Linked DNA regions of Homo sapiens. The protein of the gene in region 3 interacts with the protein of the main gene of each other region in a biochemical or structural test. Each region holds a gene or a part of one and is shown on either strand. Other genes may lie near its edges.

What was found.
Region 1: of the proteins of UBE2E2 (region 3) and ASXL2, one has a biochemical effect on the other in vitro, tested with the Homo sapiens proteins (one study listed by BioGRID).
Region 2: the proteins of UBE2E2 (region 3) and RC3H2 form a complex in vitro, tested with the Homo sapiens proteins (one study listed by BioGRID).
Region 4: the proteins of UBE2E2 (region 3) and RNF168 form a complex in vitro, tested with the Homo sapiens proteins (one study listed by BioGRID).

Annotation. Positions count from the first base shown.
Region 1 is NC_000002.12:25,742,452-25,749,487, forward strand, and holds part of ASXL2 (putative Polycomb group protein ASXL2), read right to left. Parts: intron 2,026-7,036; coding exon 1-2,025.
Region 2 is NC_000009.12:122,846,326-122,853,361, reverse strand, and holds part of RC3H2 (roquin-2), read left to right. Parts: intron 1-1,925; coding exon 1,926-2,039; intron 2,040-2,132; coding exon 2,133-2,281; intron 2,282-3,539; coding exon 3,540-3,735; 3' UTR 3,736-7,036. UniProt on the Homo sapiens protein: Post-transcriptional repressor of mRNAs containing a conserved stem loop motif, called constitutive decay element (CDE), which is often located in the 3'-UTR, as in HMGXB3, ICOS, IER3, NFKBID, NFKBIZ, PPP1R10, TNF and in many more mRNAs.
Region 3 is NC_000003.12:23,493,305-23,500,340, reverse strand, and holds part of UBE2E2 (ubiquitin-conjugating enzyme E2 E2), read right to left. Parts: intron 734-7,036; coding exon 601-733; intron 1-600.
Region 4 is NC_000003.12:196,468,272-196,472,793, reverse strand, and holds the end of RNF168 (E3 ubiquitin-protein ligase RNF168), read left to right. Parts: intron 1-21; coding exon 22-975; 3' UTR 976-4,011; downstream 4,012-4,522. UniProt on the Homo sapiens protein: E3 ubiquitin-protein ligase required for accumulation of repair proteins to sites of DNA damage. Acts with UBE2N/UBC13 to amplify the RNF8-dependent histone ubiquitination.

The DNA.
Region 1 (7,036 bases), on a different chromosome or scaffold from region 3:
AGGAAGAACAGTAGAACTGAAAAGCTCGGGGCTGCTACGGATTGCCTTACCTCTCACTGCATGAGCCATCTGCTTCTGTGCTGCCTGAATTAAATCTCTGGCTAGGGTCTTTTCATCAAATGTTTGGCCTCTAGTGAACAGGTAATTCTCCTTACTTAAAGTGGTTTGCTCATTCAATGGTATCTCAGCCTTCACATTCTTGCTAGCTAAGCAATCACTGGTAGATAGAGTTTCCCTGCTGTGAGGTCCTGAACTTGTGTCACCCTTGCCAGCACTCTGGGAAACCTGGGGCTCCTCTTTCACTGTGACAGATTCCTGCTCATCACCAGTACTTTCCTCATCAGTGTCATCTTCTTTGCTGCTGCTACTCTCTCCTGTTGCATTTTTACAGTCTGTATATCCCATTTTCAAGGCTTCAGTGGGGCTGCTTAGACAAAAACGATCTTCAGGGTTTACAGAATGGGTCCTCCTAAAGCTCTCTGAGCCCCGGCCGTAGGTAGAAATATTCAGTAAGTAGTGCCCTGCCATTGCAGGTTTGGATGTCCTTCTGCCAGCAAAACCCAGCATGAACCTCTGGCTTGTGGAGATGTCTTCCAGCTGGAAACCTGAGTGAGCGAAGTTGAACTGTGAGGGCGGCACAACTGAGAGAAGATTCTGCCTCCGAACCCTCTGAATGAGAGTCTGAAGGATCTGATCTTGGGTTGCTTTACTTAGTCCTTCGTGGTATTGGTGTGTGTCAATGCTGGAGTCCCTCAGCTCCTTAGCTGAAAAGAGCTGAAGGGGCCTTGGAACCTGGGGGAGCTGCTTACTTTGCAAGGTTTTGCCCAGCTGCTGCTGCGTAGCTGGATGGGACTGTCTCTCATTAACTTCCTCTCTGGTGCTATTTTCTGTTGTGTTGGTAGCTATGAGCGCTCCCATCCCCCTTTCCTCTTTTGCAGTCAGTGGAACCGTTTTCATTTCAACTTTGGTGAGAGGTTTAGGCAGAATTTGCTCCATGGGAACATCTTTGCCTTGAAGCAGCTGAGTCACTAAAGGATTATTAGCAGGGATACTAGAGGTTGGTCTTAAAGTGGGTCCATTCATGTTTAAAGAAGTTCCTGGGGTTTTAAGGCTAGAAGCTGCTGGCAAAGTGCTCGAGGGTGGAGCTGATCCAGCAGGTGCTGTAGTTGCACTGACCTGGGGTACAGGAAGCTTTTCTAAAGTGGCTGTGGTCAATAAAGATGTTAAAGGGGAGGGAGTTACAGCCACTGGCACACTAGCATCTGTCTTTGATGAGGCTGAAGGGTTAGGTATATTCTTACTAGGACCTGCTTTGAGCTCAACTGTGCCATCAGCTGCACAATGAACAGGTGAGGCACCTGAGATTAGAGCAGGACCTGTTGGAGAAGGTGCTTTCTCCTGTCTGCAACTACTGGGCCCTTGTGGATGGCTGACAGAGGCCACTGTGGCTGTTGCTCTGGTGGGGTTCAGTTTTTCATTATCCAATTTCTCTATGTGGGCTGGTGATGGGACACTTGTGCATGCTCCACTGACGGCAGGTGTTGGAGGCACTGGGGGGGTTTGCTGTAGTTGTGCTCCAGAGACACTATGAGGCTGTGCCTGGCTTGGGGTGGTCTTGGTCTCAGACTGGGGCTGAGTCTCTGGACCACAGGGTAAAAGCTCTCTCGTACCTCCCCTGCTTCCAGTTCCTGCCAGTTCCAGTGTGGGGCCCTTTCCAGTTTCACTGACTCTGTCTGAGCCTGGACTGCCTCCTCTAGCAGTCTGCCCTTCACCACCCTCTCCTGGACCTTGTCCACCCCCTGGGCCAGGTCCTGGAATGGTCCCTCCAACTGAGGCGGCTGCAGCAGCTGCGGCGGCAGCGGCAGCTGCTGCCCTCTGTGCTTTGACCAGTTGGGCTTTTGCTTTGATGTCTGCAAGAGTTCTGGCTCCTGTTCTGTTAGGACTAGTGATGGAGACTGGAAAACGAGCCCTGGGAGAGACCTGCGATGGATGAAACGGCATGGGGGAGATTCTGGAGACCGGGATCTGAAAGAAGTAGAGGGGAAAAAAACAACAGAGCTTAGTTTTCATTTGTAAGAATAACAAAACTTCATTAGCCCTCACATTTTAAAAACAGATGAACACTACAGTACCTGTGACAAACATGGGTGGTCTATGGCCGAGAGGCCAAACCTTGGAGACAGCAATACTAGTTTGTCTCTAGGGTCCTTGCATCCACTTTTTCTATTGGTGCCAAAGACGACTGCTTCCACTCTCACCCCAAATCCCCACACCTCTTTTCCTATCTCAACTCCCTCCTAATGCCACTATTACAAGTGCTTATTATGATACAAAGTTTTCTATGGTATTTGCATTTTTAAAAAGTGTATTTATGTTTGAGAAAGAAGAGAAAAGCAAGCAAGCCAGCCACCCATACCACTACTGTCTTTTAGTTCTTAGCTTTACTACCAAGGTCCAGGGGAAAATACTTGCTCTTCTCTGTTCCACACACACACACACACACACACACACACACACACACACACACACTTGGGCTGGATTATCTCAAATTACACAGGCTTCTAGACAGCACTGGAAGGAAGACAATGTGTGATCTATAGGAGCCCCCACCATGCCCATACACATAAAGGAGTATGTACATAATGTTTGCCAGCCATTCTCATCTCTGGCTGGTATTATATTTACTTGCGCAATTTTAAAATATATATGCTCTGGGTCCTATCCCAAAAAATTACAAATCAGAACCCCCAAGACCCTAGGAAGTCTTTTTTTTTTTTTTTAGATAGGGTCTTGCTCTGTCTCCCAGGCTGGAGTGTAGTGGTGTGATCTCGGCTCACTGCAACCTCAGTCTCCTGGGTTCAAGTGATTCTTGTGCGTCTGCCACCCGAGTAGCTGGGATTACAGGTGTGGGTCACCACGTCTGGCTAACTTTTGTATTTTTAGTAGAGATGGGGTTTCACCATGTTGGCTAGGCTAGTCTTGAACTCCTGACCTCTTGTGATATACCTGCCTCGGCCTCCCAAAGTGCTGGGATTACAGGCATGAGCCACAGCACCCAGCCTGAAAAAGCCTGGCCAACACAGTGACTCCAGAGGGAGCCTCCAGCTCAAAAAAAAAAAAAAAAAAAGTTTCTAAAAAGCTACTTGTGAGATTCTGATGTCTATCAGGTTTGAAACCATTGATTTCCTTCTTTTTTTTTTTTTTTTTTTTTTGAGACAGTCTCACTCTGTCACCCAGGCTGGAGTGCAGTGGCAGAATCTCAGCTCACTGTAACCTCTGCCTCCTGGGTTCAAGTGATTCTTGTGGCTCAGCCTCCCGAGTAGCTGGGATTACAGGTGCCTGCCACCACACCCAGCTAATTTTTTTGTATTTTTAGTAAAGATGGGGTTTCACCATGTTGGCCAGGATGGTCTCGAACTCCTGACTTCAAGTGATCCACCCACCTCGGCCTCCCAAAGTGCTGGGATTACAGGCGTGAGCCACCACGCCTGGCTGAAACCAATGATTTTCATACCATAAAATCATCATGTCTGAAACAAATCTGCCTTCTGTCCTGAACAATACTTTGAAAGCTATTAGAGTTACTAATAATTCAACAAGATGTGGACTCTTCTAGTAACTGGTTGAGTTTAAAGGAGCAAATAACTGTTAAGATGTTCTAAAGCATTTAATTAAAAAAAAATTAACCCACTAAACCCTAAGAAAATGCATGCCATTTTTCTTAATGTTTTTAAATTAAGAATAATAAAGTCACTAAACATTTTTCATTATTTGCAATACTCATTTCTCAAAAGGTCAGTAGTCCTCAAAAACTGATTCTCTAATTCCGAAGTTAGAGCCATGGGACTTCATAACAGGTGTCACAGAGTATATATTTTACATCAGGAAACCTATTTAATCTCTCTAAGAGCTAAATCTATTTCACATCCAATTCGAACAAGCCTAGATAGTATATTTACTCATCACATAGCATTTTAGAGGCTGCCTACAGTAAGAAAGAAGCAGTTATTGTCCCTTATTTATATCATATGAAAGAAACTGCAGGGGAAAAAATGAAAAAAAAAAAAAAGATAAAACTAAAAAAGTAAATACAAGAAAGGTGTTTAGGGGAATTTATATAGGGACAAACAACTTTACATAAGAATACTCGTGAGAGTAACTCTATACCTAACATAATACATCATATCTATCATAATAACACAATCATTAATAACATGTTGAAATCAAATAAGAACAACCATTATAAGTGGTTAAAATGAAAGGTTTCGATACCTAAAAATAAGTTTCAGTTACTTACGTAAATAGCCCTATTACCTGATTATGCAAAATAAATCATATTTCTTTTTAAGTACAAAACCAAAGCTGTCCAGGCATTGATAACAATTTAATTTACTGAGAAGCCCTACCCCGGGAGAGCAGAGAGATTCAATCCTTTTCTTTTTAAGTGTACAGTCATCCCTTGGTATCCATGGGGGATTGGTTCTAGGACCCCAGAGGATATCAAAATCTGAGGATGCTCAAGTCCTTTATATAAAATGGCGTAGTATTTGCAGATAACCTCCACATATCTTCCCATATATTTTAAGTCATCTCTAGATTATTTATAACACCTAACATAATGTAAATGCTATATAAATTGTTATACTGTATTTTTACATTTGTATTTAATTTTCTTTTCCAAATATTGCGATAGGTGGTTGGTTGAAAATACTGCATTAACCTTGAGGATGTGGAACTTGCTGATACAGAGGGCTGACTGTATAGGGAATGTAAAACATATAATGTGCATGTGTGTATATATAGTTTTTATATACATTTGTATATATATAAAAGTTGTAACTAAGTTATAACATTTATACTACATTGTGAATTTTGTTTTCTACTACTACATTGTGAATTTTGTTTTCTACTTAAATTTTGTTTAAAAGGTTTTGTTCTGTTATAAATTACATTAAACTTTGTCTAAGAAAGCAGTATTTGAGATAGGGTCTAAGAGAAGAGAGTTACTAAAGACACTTCTGGAGAAGTCTTTTTTGAGGGAGATGAGGGAGAAGAAAGGAAAAGAACTGAAAAAAGTAAAATTATATTAACTTGGTCACAGTGGATTAAAGTTTCTGTGTAATCCCTTTGGACTAGCAGAAAGCAGACAGAATATGATGTAACCCAGCCTGTTTACAGGTGAGAAAATAGAAATGATGGGTCTTAGCAACATTTATAGCAAAACCTAAACAGTTACTCAGCTCTCAGGTCTGGAGATAAGCTGTGAATGACATTGAAGAAAAGTTTCTAATATTTTTATAAGAAAGAATAGTAAAAGTGATTATAATAAAAATCAGAATCTCTGGCGATGCATGTTAATGGTAGAAAAAAAAATAAGAAAAAACCCCCATAGATTCGTAAGTGCTAAAATCACCAATTTTAAAGAGCAATGAATTGGCCAGGCGTGGTGGCTCACACCTATAACCCTAGCACTTTGGGAGGCCGAGGCAGGTGGATCTTGAAGTCAGGAGTTCAAGACCAGCCTGGCCAACACGGTGAGACCCCTTTACAAATAATTATTTGTAAACATACAAAAATTAGCCAGGCGTCGTGGCTTAATGCCTATAATCCTAGCTACTTGGGAGGCTGAGACAGGAGAATCCCTTGAATCCGGGAGGTGGAGGCTGCAGTGAGCCAAGATTGCATCACTGCATTCCAGCCTGGACGACAGTGCAAGACTCCATCTTGGGGGGCAAAAAACAAGCAATGAATAAAAAAGTAATAGGAAGTACAGACGGTGGCCCACGCCTGTAATCCCAGCACTTTGGGAGGCAGAGGAGGGCAGATGACTTGAGGTCAGGAGTTTGGGACCAGCCTGGCCAACATGGTGAAACCCCATCTCTACTAAAAAATAAAATTACAAAAATTAGCCAGGTATGGTGGTGCATGCCTGTAATCCCAGCTACTCAGGAGGCTGAGGCAGGAGAATCGCTTGAACCTGGGAGGTGGAGACTGCAGTGAGCCAAGATTGTGCCACTGCACTCCAGCCTGGACAACAGAACGAGACTCCGTTAAAAAAAAAAAAAATACAATGAGAATGGGTCAAGTTCTGGTAAGTGAATCTTTCCAAGGAATACTTCCTGACAGAACTAATTTTGGTTCACCTCAGTTAAATAAAAAGGGGGAAAAAGTACTTTTACTAGTCTTATTTTTCCATTTATATCCTAATGAGTAATATTCAGTGCGTTGCCTCTTAAATTCCTTGGTAAGAAAAATAAACACTATTTATTAAATGAATGAACTGCAAGCTGATATTAAGCACAAGCCCAAGTATTAATAAACCTTTAAGATCAGAAGTAAAAATGTGTTTGGGTTTTAAAAGGCATTGTATATTAAGACAGTCAAAGATACTACCTAGAAGAATTTGAAAGATTTGACATGCAGCAATACAAGGCTAACTGGAAGTTAATCACATGCTAAGCAGCAGAGCTTACCAAGACTATTCCATGTTACTAGTGTCCCTCAAGTAACCAGTAGTGACAGAAGACAGCTACACATATTTCCTTTAATAGGAGGGAGCTAAAGGTAGTTCCTGATTCACAGAACATCAAGTCAGTTATGGTAGCAAGAAAAGGGTAAACTCAAATACCATGGCTCTTGGTACAAAGATAGGATCCTTTGATTACACCAATAGTCTCCTCATGCTTAGTCTCACATTTCTTATTTTGTCAATAATTTTCATGATGGTCTGGAAGCATGCATTACAGACTACCTGTAGGGGAACCGAAGGAAGCCCAAGACTCTTCCACCCTGGGATTGTGATCAACTCTTCTCTGCAATATCTGCGTGAACCCTGGCCCAAAAAATCTAAGAGGTCCTGAGGAGACAGTAGGACAGTTGGCTGTCAATGTTCTACAGAGGCTGAGAATTATAACTAAGTTTTTGGAAGTCCATTTAAATTATATTTGGTCTAAGAGTCTGAGATCAGGTGCCTCTGAGCTCAAGTAGTGAGCACAGGGGTGGTTTACATTAGATGCCCAGGTACCTTCCTTATGCA
Region 2 (7,036 bases), on a different chromosome or scaffold from region 3:
GTTTCTCACAGAGGGGGATTTGGCAGGGTCATAGGACAATAGTGGAGGGAAGGTCAGCAGATAAACAAGTGAACAAAGGTCTCTGGTTTTCCTAGGCAGAGGACCCTGCGGCCTTCCGCAGCGTTTGTGTCCCTGGGTACTTGAGATTAGGGAGTGGTGATGACTCTTAATGAGCATGCTGCCTTCAAGCATCTGTTTAACAAAGCACATCTTGCACCGCCCTTAAGCCATTTAACTCTGAGTGGACACAGCACATGTTTCAGAGAGCACAGGGTTGGAGGTAAGGTCACAGATCAACAGGATCCCAAGGCAGAAGAATTTTTCTTAGTACAGAACAAAATGAAAAGTCTCCCATGTCTACTTCTTTCTACACAGACACGGCTACCATCCGATTTCTCAATCTTTTCCCCACCTTTCCCCCCTTTCTATTCCACAAAACCGCCATTGTCATCATGGCCCGTTCTCAATGAGCTGTTGGGCACACCTCCCAGACGGGGTGGTGGCTGGGCAGAGGGGCTCCTCACTTCCCAGTAGGGGCGGCCGGGCAGAGGCGCCCCTCACCTCCCGGATGGGGCGGCTGGCCAGGCGGGGGGCTGACCCCCCCACCTCCCTCCCGGACGGGGCGGCTGGCCGGGCAGAGGGGCTCCTCACTTCCCAGTAGGGGCGGCAGGGCAGAGGCGCCCCTCACCTCCCGGACAGGGCGGCTGGCCGGGTTGGGAGCTGACCCCTCCACCTCCCTCCCGGTCAGGGCGGCTGGCCGGGCCGGGGGCTGACCCCCACACCTCCCTCCCGGACGGGGCGGCTGGCCGGGCGGGGGGCTGACCCCCCCACCTCCCTCCCGGACGGGGCGGCTGGCTAGGCAGAGGGGCTCCTCACTTCCCAGTAGGGGCGGCCGGGCAGAGGCGCCCCTCACCTCCCGGACGGGGCGGCTGGCCAGGCGGGGGGCTGACCCCCCCACCTCCCTCCCGGACGGGGCGGCTGCCGGGCGGAGACGCTCCTCACTTCCCAGACGGGGTGGCTGCCAGGCAGAGAGGCTCCTCACTTCTCAGACGGGGCGGCTGCCGGGCGGAGAGGCTCCTCACTTCTCATACGGGGCGGCTGCCGGGCGGAGGGTCTCCTCACTTCTCAGACGGGGCGGCCGGGCAGAGACGCTCCTCACCTCCCAGACGGGGTGGCGGCCGGGCAGAGGCATTCCTCACATCCCAGACAGGGCGGCGGGGCAGAGGCGCTCCCCACATCCCAGACGACGGGCGGCCGGGCAGAGACGCTCCTCACTTCCTAGATGTGATGGCGGCCGGGAAGAGGCGCTCCTCACTTCCCAGATGGGATGGCGGCCGGGCAGAGACGGTCCTCACTTTCCAGACTGGGCAGCCAGGCAGAGGGGCTCCTCACATCCCAGACGATGGGCGGCCAGGCAGAGACGCTCCTCACTTCCCAGACGGGGTGGCGGCCGGGCAGAGGCTGCAATCTCGGCTTTTTGGGAGGCCAAGGCAGGCGGCTGGGAGGTGGAGGTTGTAGCGAGCCGAGATCACGCCACTGCACTCCAGCCTGGGCGCCATTGAGCACTGAGTGAACCAGACTCCGTCTGCAATCCCGGCACCTCGGGAGGCCGAGGCTGGCAGATCACTCGTGGTTAGGAGCTGGAGACCAGCCCGGCCATCACAGCGAAACCCCGTCTCCACCAAAAAAATACGAAAACCAGTCAGGCGTGGCGGCGCGCGCCTGCAATTGCAGGCACTCTGCAGGCTGAGGCAGGAGAATCAGGCAGGGAGGTTGCAGTGAGCCGAGATGGCAGCAGTATAGTCCAGCTTCGGCTCGGCATGAGAGGGAGACCATGGAAAGAGAGGGAGAGGGAGACCATGGGGAGAGGGAGACCATGGGGAGAGGGAGAGGGAGAGGGAGAGCAAAATCAGTATTTTTCTTAGTTACAGAGTGATTATACAGAAGATGCAACAGATACTAAACCTGATAGGGATATCGAGTTAGAGCTTTCAGCACTTGATACTGATGAACCTGATGGACAAAGTGAACCAATTGAAGTAAGTGCCACAATTAGATAATTGAGAGGCTTTGTTTGATTGAAAATTTATAAAATACTTTCATACTGAAGGATTAACATTTTATTTTCTTAGGAGATCTTGGACATACAGCTTGGTATCAGTTCTCAAAATGATCAGTTGCTAAATGGAATGGCAGTGGAAAATGGGCATCCAGTACAGCAGCACCAAAAGGAGCCACCAAAGCAGAAGAAACAGAGTTTAGGTGAAGACCATGTGATTCTGTGAGTGTTAGACAGAAAATTCATAAACAGTGGGCATAGGACATAATAAAGAGAAAAAAATGCGAAATTAATTTTTGGCTTTATGCTGTGAGGGGAAGACCTTATATGGGCAATGATTTGGTCAATCTGGATTTTTAGGGAAGAAAAAGTAAAATTGAACTAACAAAGCAGTCCATTTTGGTAGCCTGAAACTTGCTTTTTGTTGAGATAAAGTTAATCTGTGTTCCAGCATCAGGTTATGCTTCTTTAATCTGGTTGCCAAATTTCTAGACTACAAAATGGAGAATGACAACCTAGATTAATGGTTTCTCTTTTTGAAAATCATGTTAAGATTTTCTTGGCTAGGCTGGGCGTAGTGGCTCATGGCTGTAATCCCAGCACTTTGGAAGGCTGAGGCGGGTGGATCACAAGGAGTTCAAGAGCAGCCTGGCCAACATAGTGAAACCCTGTCTCTACAAAAATACAAAAAAATTAGCTGGGCATAGTGGCGGGCACCTGTATTCTCAGCTGCCTGGGAGGCTGAGGCAGGAGAATCGCTTGAACCCGGGAGGCGGAGACAGTGAGCCAAGATCGTGACACTGCACTCCAGCCTGGGCGACAGACTGAGACTCCATCTCAAAATTATCTATCTATCTATCTATCTATAGATAGATAGCATATAATATAGTATATTTTCTTGGCTATAATACTGCCATTTTGAATAATTACTGCCAAAAATATGGGCTTAATCTTCAACTTGGTAGTTTGGCCTTAAACTAACTAGTATTTTAATTTTTATCATAACTTTTGGAAAACAGGACTTTTCAAGCCAGGAGTGGTGGCTCACACCTGTAATCCCAGCACTTTGGGAGGCCGAGGCGGGTGGATCATTTGAGGTCAGGAGTTCTAGACCAGCCTGGCCAACATGGTGAAACCCCATCTCTACTAAAAATACAAAATAGCTGGGCGTGGTGGCACATGCCTGTAATCCCAGCTACTTGGGAGGCTGAGGCAGGAGAATTGCTTGAATCCAGGAGGCAGAGGTTGCATTGAGCCGAGATCATGCCACTGCACTCCAGCCTGGGCGACGGAGGGAGACTCTGTCTCAAAAATAGGAAAACAGGACTTTTCTAGTTACTTCTGATACTTCTAGTGATAAAGACATGTCTTTGCTAGAGACTCCTAAAGTTTGCTGTAGCTTTCATTAAATATGTATAGTCACCCTTAACAGTTTGCACTTAAAGCTAATTTGTTTTTAATGTCATTTCTTTTTTCTCAGGGAGGAGCAAAAAACAATTCTGCCGGTAACTTCTTGCTTTAGCCAGCCACTCCCAGTGTCTATTAGCAATGCAAGTTGCCTCCCCATCACCACATCTGTCAGTGCTGGCAACCTCATTCTGAAAACTCATGTTATGTCTGAAGATAAAAACGACTTTTTAAAACCTGTTGCAAATGGGAAGATGGTTAACAGCTGAAAGGAGGTTCATCTTTCAAATTTGTGACCACACCATGGAAGCATTTACACTAGCTTTTTATATATATAATATATATTATATAATGTATATTTTTTTTAAAAAAAAGATATTACTGGGGGCATCCATTTCCTGTGGACTCTTTGATACTTCAAGCCCTCTTGCATTAGCATTATGAAAAAAAAAAAGAAAATTTACTTTACTAGGGTAACATGTTCACTTTCCAGAAATGATTGGAATTTGGACAACATTTAACTTAAGCTTCAAGCAGCTTTTTATGAGTTTGTAGCAATCCGGTGCAGTAACTGAGCCATTTCCTATTTTAAATGGCTTCTATAGAAAATTAACAACTCAGTTATTAAACTAGCAGGATCCTACAATGATACATCTAGTGAAAGTAGACTTAGTTAACTTATTTATTTCTATTTTATGTTTCACTGAGAGAAGTTTCCATCTCATTCCAGCTGCTTTATTTATCTTTTTCATGGAACTTTGCATGGATTTCTTTTTCTTTTTTTAATTTTGAAGAGTGGAGTTAGATGTTCTTACCATAGAATTTTACAGGGTTATATACTAGCATTCTTTACTGCATTATATGTAGGAGTGTGGTGCAGTGCTTTTATCTGTAGCATATAATTTTTTTTTAATTTTCCATTTTTCAAGAGTAGTTTCTGCTTTGTTAATATTTATACACAGGCTACTTGTTGAAGTAATTAATTAAAAATATAACCAAGTGCCTAAGTCTTTCAGCTGATGTACTAGATATTAAATTCTCCTAAGTTATGCAGAATCGTTTTTACAATTTTGATAAATTATGCACTAATGTAATGGCAGTTTTTTAAAATGCAGATTTAAGCCTGTACATTATTGAATCTGATGACTTGGCAAAAGAATCAGGTGCTTTCAGCTTTCTTGAGAAAACCCTGTATGTAGCGTTTGCACTGACTAACAAGATGGTATTGCTGGGTTTTTAATTTAAACTAATTAATTTGGTTGTTCATTGCATTATCTTGGTTAAATATTGTTTATTGTTACTTCATGTTGGGGTTTAGTTTTTCTTGTTTTTTGACTGTTAGGTTGATAAGACTATGAACTGTGTAATAGTAGAACAGTGGCTAACATTTATTCATACTTAAGAACATGAATAATTTCTGCCTTGCTAAAATGTGACTGAAATGGTTTTGACTTGGCATCTGAAAGTATACAATGTGTTCAACAAGTCATGCATCAGATTTGTGGGAGGTATTGTACTGAAACCTAAATTTCAGTCAACATTTGAAAAGAAGAGCTGGGCATTCCTTCCTGGTGATCTTTACCTATAGTTTATCTATCTGTTTTTCTTCTGTTTCTTTAAGATTAGTTTGACTTTTATTATTATTTTTTTAATTAACTTCTGTGAAGTTGTTTACTCTGAAAATTGTACTGGAATATTTTAAGCCAAGCTGATCTTTCACCAGGTGTACTGTATGTAAGGGCTTTTCCTGCTAGCAAGATGCTTAAACAGGATCATGTTATTGGTCGTCTGAGCTATTTAGTTGTTTTACAAAACCACAGCATTGTATCAGATAAGATTTTGATAAAAAGTTTTGTGCACATTTCCAGGGGCGGGAGGGTTGACATTTCCCTGAAATTTCTTGATTAGAATGAGTAAATACTGGTGTTTGATACCTGTCTTAATGAACATGCTCATAAGGTGACTGATAAGTTGTAAATATACCTGAGAAACAAAGGGGTAGTTTTGATATTCTGGTGTCAGTATGGAAGATCTTACACATTTATTTAATACTCAAATGTATGAAGATGTTTGTTTGTAGCATAACAACAGCACAGTAGCCTTGACTTAGTTTCCTTTGGTTAGTACTGTACCTTTTTTGCCATGGCCAGTGCTCCCCATCCCTATGAAGACATTTTATTTATTTCACTCTGTAACCTGAAATGAATAGGAACAAGGGTTTTAAACCATGTTACATTAACTTTTCTGACATTATAAATTAGCCTAGAATATTACAGGAACATGATTGTTATATAATTTATATCAGAACCTTTCTATAAATATGTGCTTATTACATTTGAAATGCTTCCAATGTACTTTATTTGCTGTTTGTAATTCCAAAAAGGATATGCAAACCAGTCTGTCTATTTCATGGATATTTAATAGTGAGATCTTCCATGTTGAAGGTAATGTATTTTTTTTTAAGATTTTAAAATTGCTATTTTGTTACAAAATAGAGACCTATTAACAGTTTGAGAGCTCCTTATGTGCCCTCAGGGAAAGAACCCTCTGTGCAACAGAACTACACAAAACATCTTCAGCACGTTCTGAGGGTGAATATATACTACATAAATTGATCTTGTGTATTTAACCTTATCTTTTTAATTTTAAAATTGAAATTTTGAAACTTGGTTGTGCTCTGCTGGAGGGGGTTGGGATAAACTGCTTAGATGTTTGCCTACTTGTCCAGTGAAATTACATTTGCATCAGTATATGTATATACCTGCCAACCTTATTGGTATGTCTCAGAACATTTATATTAAAATAATGCTTGTCTTGCAGCAGGTGATCCCATAAAACAATAACTCCCTGTTCTTAAAAACTTACTCTCTTTTTCACTAACAACATAGGAATTGTTTCTGTGTTGAGATTATTCTGTGTTGCATCCATTCTCTATGTAGTGGTCACCTTCTGTCTGTCATGGTGGGCTTAATGTGAAGTAAAGCCATTGGTTCTCTGCCACTTTCGAAGAAAGGGCAGTTCATCTGATCCTTCTTCAGAATGGTACCTACTGATATCATCGAGGAAAATGTTACAAATCAGACCTAGGATATGACTTTTTAAAATTGAGGCATTTCCCGTCATTTGGCCTTTTTACCAACAAGATGTGATGTACAAATTTGGAATCAAAGGATACAAAGCAACAAGAGAGGAAATGTGTAATGTGGGTAACCAAACTGCATATGTTACCTATTGTCTAATCAGAAAAAATAGTCTGAGGTCTGGAAAGCAGGAAAGTGGTGGTTATTTTCTTTCATTTTTTGTGTTTTTGTTTTTTAATTTCTAAGTTCCATTCTGAAATCCATGTGCCGCATTCAGTTACTGTGGTTGTAGCATCAGTTTTTTTGTGGTTTCATTTCATTTTATGAATTCAGAGGAAGTTACATATATATTTTTTCTAGTTGGTACCTGAACAAAGCAGATTCCCTTGCCTTTGCTGCCACGTCTTATTTTCAATGCCATGTGATAAACCAGTGTCATACATGAAAGTTGTGCATTGTAATTTTCAAAAAAAAGGGAGTTCATTAGGCC
Region 3 (7,036 bases):
ATACATGACTTTTCATTGATTAGTTTCATTAATGAACTATTATAAATACTTTACGAAATTTTTTAACACAACTTTTAAGTCTCTGTGGGTCATACTTTCCATACTAGTCCATGTGTGCTACATGTGAGCAGCTGAACTCTAGAGGCACCAAAACTCAAACCTCCATAGCTGGTGCTATAAACCTTGCCTAGGCAAGGCTTCCTCTGCCTTTAGCCTGATTCTTGCGCTTAGCTTGCTTGGGCTCTGGCTCCAGGCTACGTCTGATTTTCTGGGCTCTGGTACTCACCCTGGCCCAACCTTATGCCCCCATTTTCACCCATAAAACATGGTGTTTTAATGTTACATTAAAACATATAACAAAGAAAGGAGATAATGAGGAGAAAAAGGAGGAGAAAAAAAACAATGAAATCAGTAAAAAGCTGGGGTGGAGGAATAACCTACAATTTTTTACATTGTTTCATTTTATACACTATCAATCCTGGGAAGCTGTCTGTGACAACAGAATAGACATGCATCCCTAGAATGCATATTTAAGAATAAGTATATGTATCTAGAAATATAATCCATATTGCTAAAAATCAATGAAAACTTCATACTGACCTTAGGGGGTTTAAACGGATAGTCTGGTGAAAAGGTAATGTCAAGAAAGAACACCCCTCCTTCATAGACAGATCCTGGGGGTCCCAATATAGTTGACCTCCATTCATAAATGTTGTCTCCTTTGGGTCCAGCACTGAAATAAGACATACAAATGAAATGTGCTTAGAAATTACATAAAGGCTGGAATTTAACAAAATCTATTTATGATAACCAATTGAGCAATTCCATAAAAACACAAAAAGTTAATCAGTTAACTCTCATGTTAAGATTCATATTGCCAATATTGTCATTATCCTAGAAGTGAAATATGTTGGTATCACTTCATAAAAGAACACCAAGATCCTCTTTTGCCATTCACAACCCTACGCCTATGGAACAAGAGTCCAAGGACTACAGGCCAGAGGTAGAAACACAAATGTTTAATGAAAGCATGAAATTATTTGTGATGTCAGAGACAAAATTTCAAAGTTAGAAGGACCTCTGGGGAATGACTAGTCTGATCCCTTTGCTAACAACTGAGAACACAAAGGAGGTTCAATGTTCATCATCCAAAGTCTCTGCTCAAATATCATATCCCATCTGAATCTTCCTTTCTTTCTCCCCACCCAAAGGACTTCCTGACCCATACATCATGACCAATGAGGTCTGTAGAGGATAAGATGTATCATTTTGTTTTATAACTGTGTTTTGCAACTAATGCTTCTTTCTACCCTCCCTAGAAGGTGCTTGAGGAACAGGTTGTACCTTGTCCTTAGTGCCTCTTAAGTCAGTATGTTGGATGATGATGAATTAATAACAAAGCAAGTGAAGAAGCCACATGGCTACTAGCAGTACACATGTCTCTGAGTTTCAGAGAATTTTGCTGAAAACAATATGGCCCACATGAGTCGAGTGAATTGTATTAGTTCTCTCAGGTGAAAAGAAGGGCAAAATGAGATTAGGATTTAGCTAATCCTAAGAATGGGCTCAAGCCATTCTTGGGTCTCAGCCTCTCAAGTAGCTGGGTTTACAGGCATGCATCACTGGACCACACCTGGCCCCTAGAAAATGTATTTTTAAATGAGTTGCAATAGGTCTTGTAGGGAAGCTATGAATAAAGTCATAAAAGATGTGTAAGATCTTTATGGAGAAAATTATATAAAACTTATTGAAAAGTACTCATAAGAGTTAAATAAATGGAGGGAGATACCAAGTTTATGGGTAGGGAGACCTGATATCAAATGTCAGTTTCTCCAAATTGATTCATCATAATTCCAATTAAAAAGTCCAACTGCTTTTTAAAACCAAAACTCGACAAGTTGATTTTAAAATTTTTTCGGAAGCTCAAAGAAATTCCTCAAACTTTTCCACACATATATGAAAACCTGATTTATGTCAACTGATGGGACTAGGAAAAGTTTTTATATTTGAAAAACAGAGAAACTGGATTTTTACCCTCAGTAAATAAACAAATGCTGTTGCAGATGGATTAAATATTTAAATGCAAAAGTCAAAATATTAGAGTTTGACTGAAGAGAGTGACAAGGCAAGCTGCAAACAGAAAAGATATTTGGATCATATAAAAGTGACCAAATACTAGTGTTGAGAATACACAAGTTCCTAAGAATCAACTAAAAAAAGACTCTATTAAAAAAGACATAGACATTTCCAAAAAAAGGGAAACATAAATGGCCAATAATCATATGAAAAATGCTCAATATCATCAAAATCGGGGAAATGAAACTGAAAATCAAAATTCAGTAATATTATTTTACAAAATGCAAATGCAAAAATCAATGCCTGACAAAACCACATGTTGATGAGGATGTGGAAAAACTAGAACTCCTATGTACTGCTGATGAGTATGAGTAATTCCTTCGGATGAGAATATAGGCTCATCTAGTTAAGTTGAATATACAGTTGACCCCTGAACAACAGGGTCTGCATTGCGTGGGTCAACTTAGATGAACTAAATTTCAAGAAAATACATTAGAAAAATTTGAGATTTGTGACAATTTGAAAAAACTCGCTGACAACGCACTAGCCTAGAAATATTGAAAAATTAAGAAAAAGGAACGTCATGAGTGCACAAAATATACACAGATATTAGTTTTTCTTATTTACTACCAGAAAATATATACCGATCTCTTACAAAGTTAAAATTATACCCACAAACCATACATGATGCCATGAGCATTTTAAAAGAAATGTAAGCAAACACAAACATAGAGTATTAAATCATAACTGCATAAAAGTAACTATAATACATACTGTACTACTGTAATAATTTTGTAGCCACCTCCTGTTGCTATTGCAATGAACTCAGCTATTGCCAATAGCTGCTTAAAATGCCTAAAATGCCACGTGACAAAAATCATCTCTGCATGAGCAGTTCATCTCTCCAGCAAATTGCGTATTGCCATAAAAAGTGCTCTCTCTCAGTTCTCGCATATTTTTCATTGTGTTTGTGCAATACCGTAAACCTTAAATAACACCATGGGATCCATACGAAGGGCCACTAGTGATTCTGGAAGTAGTCCCAAGAAGCAGAGAAAAGTCATGCCATTACAAGAAAAAGTTGAATTACTTGATATACACTGTAGATTGAGGTCTGTAGTTGTGGTTAGCTGCCATTTCACCTTGTAAACAGATGATGTAAACTCAGGGTAACAATAAACACGGTACAATACTGTAAATGCATTTTCTCTTCCTTATGACTTTCTTAATATTTTCTTTTTTCTAGCTTACTTTATTGTAAGAATACAGCATATATACATATAACATGCAAAATATGTATTAATTGAAATGTTTATGTTATGAGTAAGGCTTCTTGTCAAAAGTAGGGTATTATTAGTAGTTAAATTTGGAGAAAGTCAAACATTATACATGAATTTTTGATGGCACAGGGGGCTGGTACCTCTAAACCCTGAGTTGTTCAAGGGTCAACTGTACACCTATTTTACAACATAGCAACTATACTCCCAGGTATACACTACAGAGAAACTTTTACATGTGTGTATCACCAGAAGACATTGAGAATAATGTTTATTGAAGCACTATTTATAATAGCAAAATTGGAAACAACACAAATGGCTACTGACAGAAAAATGGGTAAATCCACCCAAAGGAATACTATATAGCAGTGACAATATACAGATTAACATGAATGAATCTTAAAAATACATTTAATAAAAAATTAAGACTAAAAAGAATCTATACAGTAGGATACTATTTCTACAAAGCTTAAAAACAAGCAAACAGGGACATATACTACTGAGGGACACATAAATATGAGGTAAGAAAAGAAAACCAGTAAGAAAAAAGTTCAGAAGAGTGGTTTCCTGGGTAGGAGCAGAGGTTGGAGAAGCAGCACACTGGAGTTTCAATGGTTCTGGGTATGTTTCACTTCTCAGTGTGTGCAGTGGATTCAGGTGCTTTCTGTTTTATTACTAGGTTTTCTCACCTACCATGTGTTAGATACGTTATTACATAGGTACCAAATTCTTATATTAAGAAAAATTATGTCAAAGGTCTACCAATATGGTGAGAAAAGCAACTTGCTGCATATGTACAATGTGATCCTACTGTATAAATAAAAAAAAGATCCTACTGTATGAATTTACAGGTCCTACTGTATGAATATTTTATATTATTTATGGATACATATCTATGTCAAAGTCTTTTAAGAAATTAACTGGAAAGATAAACCTAAATTCATGATAGTGGTTATGAGAACAACAAGGGATGAGGTGGAATGGGGAGATGGGAGGAAACAGATGTAGAGATAGGAAATGAAGGAGAGTTACATTTTATTTCTAGTGTTTGATTTCTCTTGTTTAAAAAAGGATGAAGTAAATAAAATCACAGTTATCCTAGCTTATTGCAAAGGGTTGGAATATATTGAGAAGCAGTGGTGTAAGGGACTAGAGTACAGCATTCCTCCCCCATCACCCCATTACCTCCTTTTCCTGAGGCTGGCAATGAGGCATAGACAGAGTATATTCAGCCCAGATGACAATAAAGCTTTGGCAACAACAGCCTCTTGTTGCCAGACAAGCTCACTCACTCAGATGAATAATACACATGGTTATGCCCTGAGCTATAATTAAACCCAATATGAATAGATAAGCTTATCAGAAGGAAGAGCTTAAAAGTAGAGAAAATCACAGGTTTATAGTTACAACATTACTTCAAGGTAGATGAATAAATTCAGTTAAAAAGTACACACAGGTGAGCGTATACAGCTATGAAATAACATACACAAACACATTTAGTAAATACCAAGCTACGATTTCTCTGGGTCACTTTAAGAAATCTTAAAATGGCCTCCCAAGAATGGTAACCACAGTAAATTACAAGATATAGGCTAAATAAGGAGTCACTACCAAATAGTGTGGCTGAGGAAGGGACTCTGAAGCAGAAGACAGCAGTATCTCACCAAGAAGGGCAATGTCTGCAGATAACATAAACTCAATTTTTGCCCATTCCAAGTTTTATTTGGCTCTCAGTCAGAACTCCAAGTTTTATTGGTTCTTTGAAGTCAGTCAGCTGTCTATGTAGTTATTAACAGTGGACTAAAATAACACAGCTAATATTATCACTCTGAATTGGTTTATGCTGTCAAAGTGTGCCACTTTAAGAAATCTTAGCCAGTAGCAACAAATTATCTTGAAAACAGACTGGTATTTTAAAATGCACATAAAACTAGCCTGTAATCACAGCACTTTGGGAGGCTGAGGCGGGCAGATCATTTGAGGCCAGGAGTTTGAGACCAGCCTGGCCAACTTGGTGAAACCCCATCTTTACTAAAAAAAATACAAAAATTTGCCAGGTGTGGTGGTGGGCGCCTGTAATCCCAGCTACTCGGGAGGAGTATCTGAAATACTCCTATCCCAGGAGATAGAAGATGGGATACTATCTGAGGCAGGAGAATTGCTTGAACCCAGGAGGTGGAGGTTGCAGTGAGCCAAGACTGCGCCACTGCACTCCAGCCTGGGTGGCAGAGTGAGACTCTCAAAAAAAAAAGAAAAAAGCATATAAAACTAATACTACTTCCCTCATATAAAAATTGGGTTTTAGCAACCTGGACTCTTCTAACATTTTAGAAATGTATCACTTGAAATCCCAAAGCTTACAGCAGTGGTTCTTGAACTACACAGCCCTCTGCCCCACTCCTATTTGGATATGTACCAGTTGAGAACCCAACATCCAAAACTTTGCTGTATAATATGGTAGCCATGTGGCTACTAAGCACTTGAAATGTGGCTAGGGCAAATTGAAATGTGCTGTATGTGTAAAATATATACCTAAGTTTGAAGACTTAATGCAAAAGAAAGTAAAATAGCTCATTAATAATTTTAATAATTACTATTTACCTATTAATTTAATAATTATTAATGAACAACTACATGTTGAAATGGTAATACTTGGAATGTATTGGCGTAAAGATGTATGAAAATATGCTTTGCTTATTTTTTTCCTTTAGTCTGGCTGTCAGGAGATTTAAAATTACATACATGGCTCACATCATATTTCTGTATCATGAATCAAGAAGTGAGAAAGAAATCTTTTAATCTTTTAATGATCACTTATCTCTCAAGCTGAACAAATAAAATTTGGTGCCAGAGGACACTTGCAGTACAGAGCAATGATGAAGAACATAAACAGGCTCTGGAGTCAGACTAAGTTGTCTGAATCCTAGCCTTGGCATTTAAAGCCTGTTAGGACCTGGGTAAATGTGTAATTTTTCTATGTCTTAGTTTCCTTGACTGCAAAATGAGATCATTATAGCACAAATCTTGTAAATTTTTAGTAGAACTGTACTCACAGAACTTGGAAAATAGTAACCCTCCAAATGTCAGTTGCTGTTGTGCTTGCTGTTACACGCTGCAGATGATCAAAAATACACTCAAAGAGGTTGACTGCTTTGTAAATTTATAAGAATGGTTTCAGGACTGAAAAACAAGGCTACAAAGATGTGTACATCAAAAAAAAATAATGATTCTGTAACCTAATCTTATGATGTATATTTAGATATAGCAGAACTTTAGAAATCATGTATATCCACTGCTGCCACTCTTAGGAAATCCAAATTATCAATGAATAGAATGTTTATTTAACAACAGGATTTTCAGGTATTAGGTTATTAAGTAATGTTTTCCCACTTGCAACATTCTGAAAATGATCAATTCCCTTACTGTTTTATTTTCAGATTTTATTTTTTAAATAAGAAAAAAAACCTAAAGCTTTCATAGTTAAATTTCAAAATAAAAACACAATGAGGTAAATCTTTTAGAATGAAAAATATCAGCAAATTACGATTTGGCTGAATGCCCAAGGTTGCTGCTTCAGGAGAAATTCTGCAACAGAATCAAACTGTGTTCAGCTTCCCATGCTGCAGCCTACAGTGGATGAGCCCCTATGTACAGCTGAAATATTACATGCAATAAAAATCATG
Region 4 (4,522 bases), about 170 Mb from region 3:
GTCTTTTTCTGTTTTCTACAGGACATTGACAGTAGTGATAGGAAAAGCCCAACAGGGCAAGACACAGAAATAGAAGATATGCCGACACTTTCTCCACAGATATCCCTTGGAGTTGGAGAACAAGGTGCAGATTCTTCAATAGAGTCCCCTATGCCATGGTTATGTGCCTGTGGTGCCGAATGGTACCATGAAGGAAACGTCAAAACAAGACCAAGCAATCATGGGAAAGAGTTATGTGTCTTAAGTCACGAGCGACCTAAAACCAGAGTTCCCTACTCGAAAGAAACTGCAGTTATGCCTTGTGGCAGAACAGAAAGTGGGTGCGCCCCCACATCAGGGGTGACACAGACAAATGGAAACAACACAGGTGAGACAGAAAATGAAGAGTCGTGCCTACTGATCAGTAAGGAGATTTCCAAAAGAAAAAACCAAGAATCTTCCTTTGAAGCAGTCAAGGATCCATGCTTTTCTGCAAAAAGAAGAAAAGTGTCCCCCGAATCTTCCCCAGATCAAGAGGAAACAGAAATAAACTTTACCCAAAAACTGATAGATTTGGAGCATCTACTGTTTGAGAGACATAAACAAGAAGAACAGGACAGGTTATTGGCATTACAACTTCAGAAGGAGGTGGATAAAGAGCAAATGGTGCCAAACCGGCAAAAAGGATCCCCAGATGAGTATCACTTACGCGCTACATCCTCCCCTCCAGACAAAGTGCTAAATGGACAGAGGAAGAATCCCAAAGATGGGAACTTCAAAAGGCAAACTCACACAAAGCATCCAACACCAGAGAGAGGCTCAAGGGACAAAAATAGGCAAGTGTCTTTAAAGATGCAGTTGAAGCAGTCAGTTAATAGAAGAAAGATGCCAAATTCTACTAGAGATCACTGTAAGGTATCCAAAAGTGCTCACTCCCTACAGCCTAGCATTTCACAGAAAAGTGTTTTTCAGATGTTTCAGAGATGCACAAAGTAAGGCCTGGTAAAGGGAGTGCTTTGTGATCTAGTAAAGCTGGAATGTGAAGCTCTTTCCTATCATGGAATCTTCATCCATGTGTCATTCATGCTGCTCTCTAGGCACACTCATTGTCCTTAATGAAGGTCTGTGTGATTGTAAGGACTGCATAGACACATGAGCTTCTGCACAGCTCAGCGGTAAGCAGGGGTCCCCTGTCGTTTCCCTTCTTAATAACAGATGTGTATTAAGCTTTACAATTCTTAGAGATATCTTAAGCTTTGGCCAACTCCAGGAAATCTTCAAGTGCCATTGTCTTTCCAAAAACTGCATGTTTTATGGCCTTTGCTCACCTTTTTGTCGTGACTGGTAATCAAAGCAAGATTATACTATTCTGAGTGATTAAGGAACCCATGCAGGGTTTAAAATCCATTTTCTTGCTATTGTCCAATGTTTACAGAGTACTCAAAAGGTTTTCCTAAAGTAATCTAATTTCCATCTCCAATTTAATTCAATTTTCAGCATTGTAGCATTTCCTTTGGTGTTTGTTTTTTTTTTTTAGACGGAGTTTCAAAATTTGGATTCATATTCATATGTGGGAAATCCCAGATTTTTTTTTTTTTTTTTTTTTTTTTTTTTTTTTGGAGACAGAGTCTTGCTCTGTCACGCAGGCTGGTGTGCAATGGCGCGATCTCAGCTCACTGCAACCTCCGCCTCCCGAGTTCAAGCGATTCTTCTGCCTCAGCCTCCCGAGTAGCTGGGATCATAGGCATGTGCCACTACACCCAGCTACCCAGCTAATTTTTTTTTTTTTTTGTACTTTTAGTAGAGATGGGATTTCACCATGTTGGCCAGGCTGGTCTTGAACTCCTGTCCTCAGGTGATCCACCTGCTTCGGCCTCCCAGAGTGCTGGGATTATAGGCGTGAGCCACCACGCCCGGCCTGTTTCCTTTGGTTTAAAGTGGATTCGAATCAGTGTTAAATCAGAAAATCAGGGTTTTCTAGGAAATTGGGAATTAGTTGCCAGAAAGGAAACTGAACTATGCAGAAGGAGTTAAGAGCTGGGATGAGGCTGGATGGGGTGACTGACAGTCCAGATCATTGAAACAGATTGGGTCGTCGGAAACTGGTCCAGATGAGGCTGGATGGGGTGACTGACAGTCTGGATCATTGAAACTGATTAGGTCGTCAGAAACGGGTCCAGACGAGGATGAGGCTGAGGCTGGATGGGGTGACTGACAGTCTGGATCATTGAAACTGATTGGGTGGTTGGTCAGAAACGGGTCCAGATGAGGATGAGGCTGAGGCTGGATGGGGTGACTGACAGTCTGGATCATTGAAACTGATTGGGTGGTTGGTCAGAAACGGGTCCAGATGAGGATGAGGCTGGATGGGGTGACTGACAGTCTGGATCATTGAAACTGATTGGGTCGTCAGAAACTGGTCCAGATGAGGCTGGGTGGGGTGACTGACAGTTTGGATCATTGAAACTGATTGGGTGGTCAGAAACTGGTCCAGATGAGGATGTGGCTGGATGGGGTGACTGACAGTCTGGATCATTGAAACTGATTGGGTGGTCAGAAACTGGTCCAGATGAGGATGTGGCTGGATGGGGTGACTGACAGTCTGGATCATTGAAACTGATTGGGTGGTGAGAAATGGGTCCAGATGAGGATGAGGCTGGATGGGGTGACTGACAGTCTGGATCATTGAAACTGATTGGGTGGTGAGAAATGGGTCCAGATGAGGATGAGGCTGGATGGGGTGACTGACAGTCTGGATCATTGAAACTGGTCCACTATGACGCAGCAGGGGCAGTTTGGCAGAGCATCCTCTTCCCTTGTCCTTGTGAAAGAACACAGGAAACATTTGGGTTTTACAGCTTTTCACACCCTACTATCAGGCATCAGAATCAAAATTAGTTACTAAATTGGGTGAATTTTTGGAAACCTGCATTTCTATGCATCTGCTATTCCAGAAAAAAATGGGAATGTATTACAGGAGAGTTACCTCACAGTGTCTTATGTTGTGGAACCTGAAACATAACCACGTGTTTTCTTATATGATCATTTGTGTTGATACTGCTTTTATTTGAGTTTATGAACAGAAATAGAAAGTATGGTGCTTGGGTTTTGCCCTTTCTTACTCCTGAAAGTTAAATCAGAAGACACTGATTTCATTTTGTGAAATTTAGCTCAGAGACTATTGATCTTTTGTTTCATTAATATGAACAACTATTAGTAAAAAATAGCTTTAACAGCATTTCTGCTGATATCTAGTAATCTATTCTTTTAATGTGAAAATAAGATAAAATGTCCTGGAGCTAATTCTAGCTTAAATTTGCCAGTATTTCTGTATGTCATTAAGTTTTTTTCCTCTAAGGTTGGTAATAGAATTTTGTTAATCTTTGCATACCTGATGGCATCTATGTCAATGCTGATTGGGTAATTATAAATTCTGTGCTAATTTAAAACTTAATTTGCCTCTTAAGGTGATTGTCCTCTGAGTAATGATTGTAGTTAAATGAAGTATAGCTTGCAACTATACTATCACATGGGTCGTTAAGTAAAAATAAATAAACCAAATTTGTCTGAGACAGGCTAAGATCAATCTTCTCATCAAACCAATTTTTCTCTAAGAGCAATTTCACTTTCAGTTTTAGGGTGGACATTCTTGAATGCCTCAAATTAAACGTTATCTATTTAATCTTCCTGGAATAGTCTGTGACCAAAAAGGAGGGTGTGATATATTTAGGTGTAAATATATCACATATATGGTGTGATATATTTGGGATTTATATATTCAGCTCATTCTCTGTGAAGAAGTCTTCCTGACTAAAATTGGTTTCAAGATAAACTAATTTCTGTTAGTATTTCTACTCTGCCTACCATGTATGCCTTTTTGTTAGAAACTAATAAATGTATCAGTCACTAGCAGGTACTGGTCCTTTTTCCTCTCATTTTTGTGGAAAGGATATGCAAACACTGAATTTCTCAGGGAGTACTAAGGCTGTGCAGAGGCTGAGAATCTGAAAAATAAAATACTAAAAATAAAAATGGATTATTATGTGTATTTTACCACAACTTAAAAATATGTAAAAATCAGCTACATGAAAATTAAAAGTTCTGCATAACAAAAACTACCATCAAGGGAAATTGGAAGCTGTGGCAAACTTGGGAAGAAATAGTTGCAGTTCATCACAAAGAGCTAATTTCCTTTATGTAAAGTATCCTCCAGTTCATTAAGAAAAGACCAATAACTCGGCCGTGCATGGTGGCTCACACCTGTAATCCCAGCACTTTGGGAGGCCGAGGCAGGCAGATCACCTGAAGTCAGGAGTTTGAAACCAGCCTGGCCAACATGGGGAAACGCCGTCTCTACTAAAAATACAAAAATTAGCCGGGTGTGGTGGCGTGTGCCTGTAATCCCAACTATTCGGGAGGCTGAGACAGAGAATTGCTTGAACCCAGGAGGCGGAAGTTGCAGTGAGCCAAGATTGTGCCACTGCACTCCAGCCTGGGTGACAGACTGGAGACTCCGTCTCAAAAAAAAAAAAAAAAGAAAAAA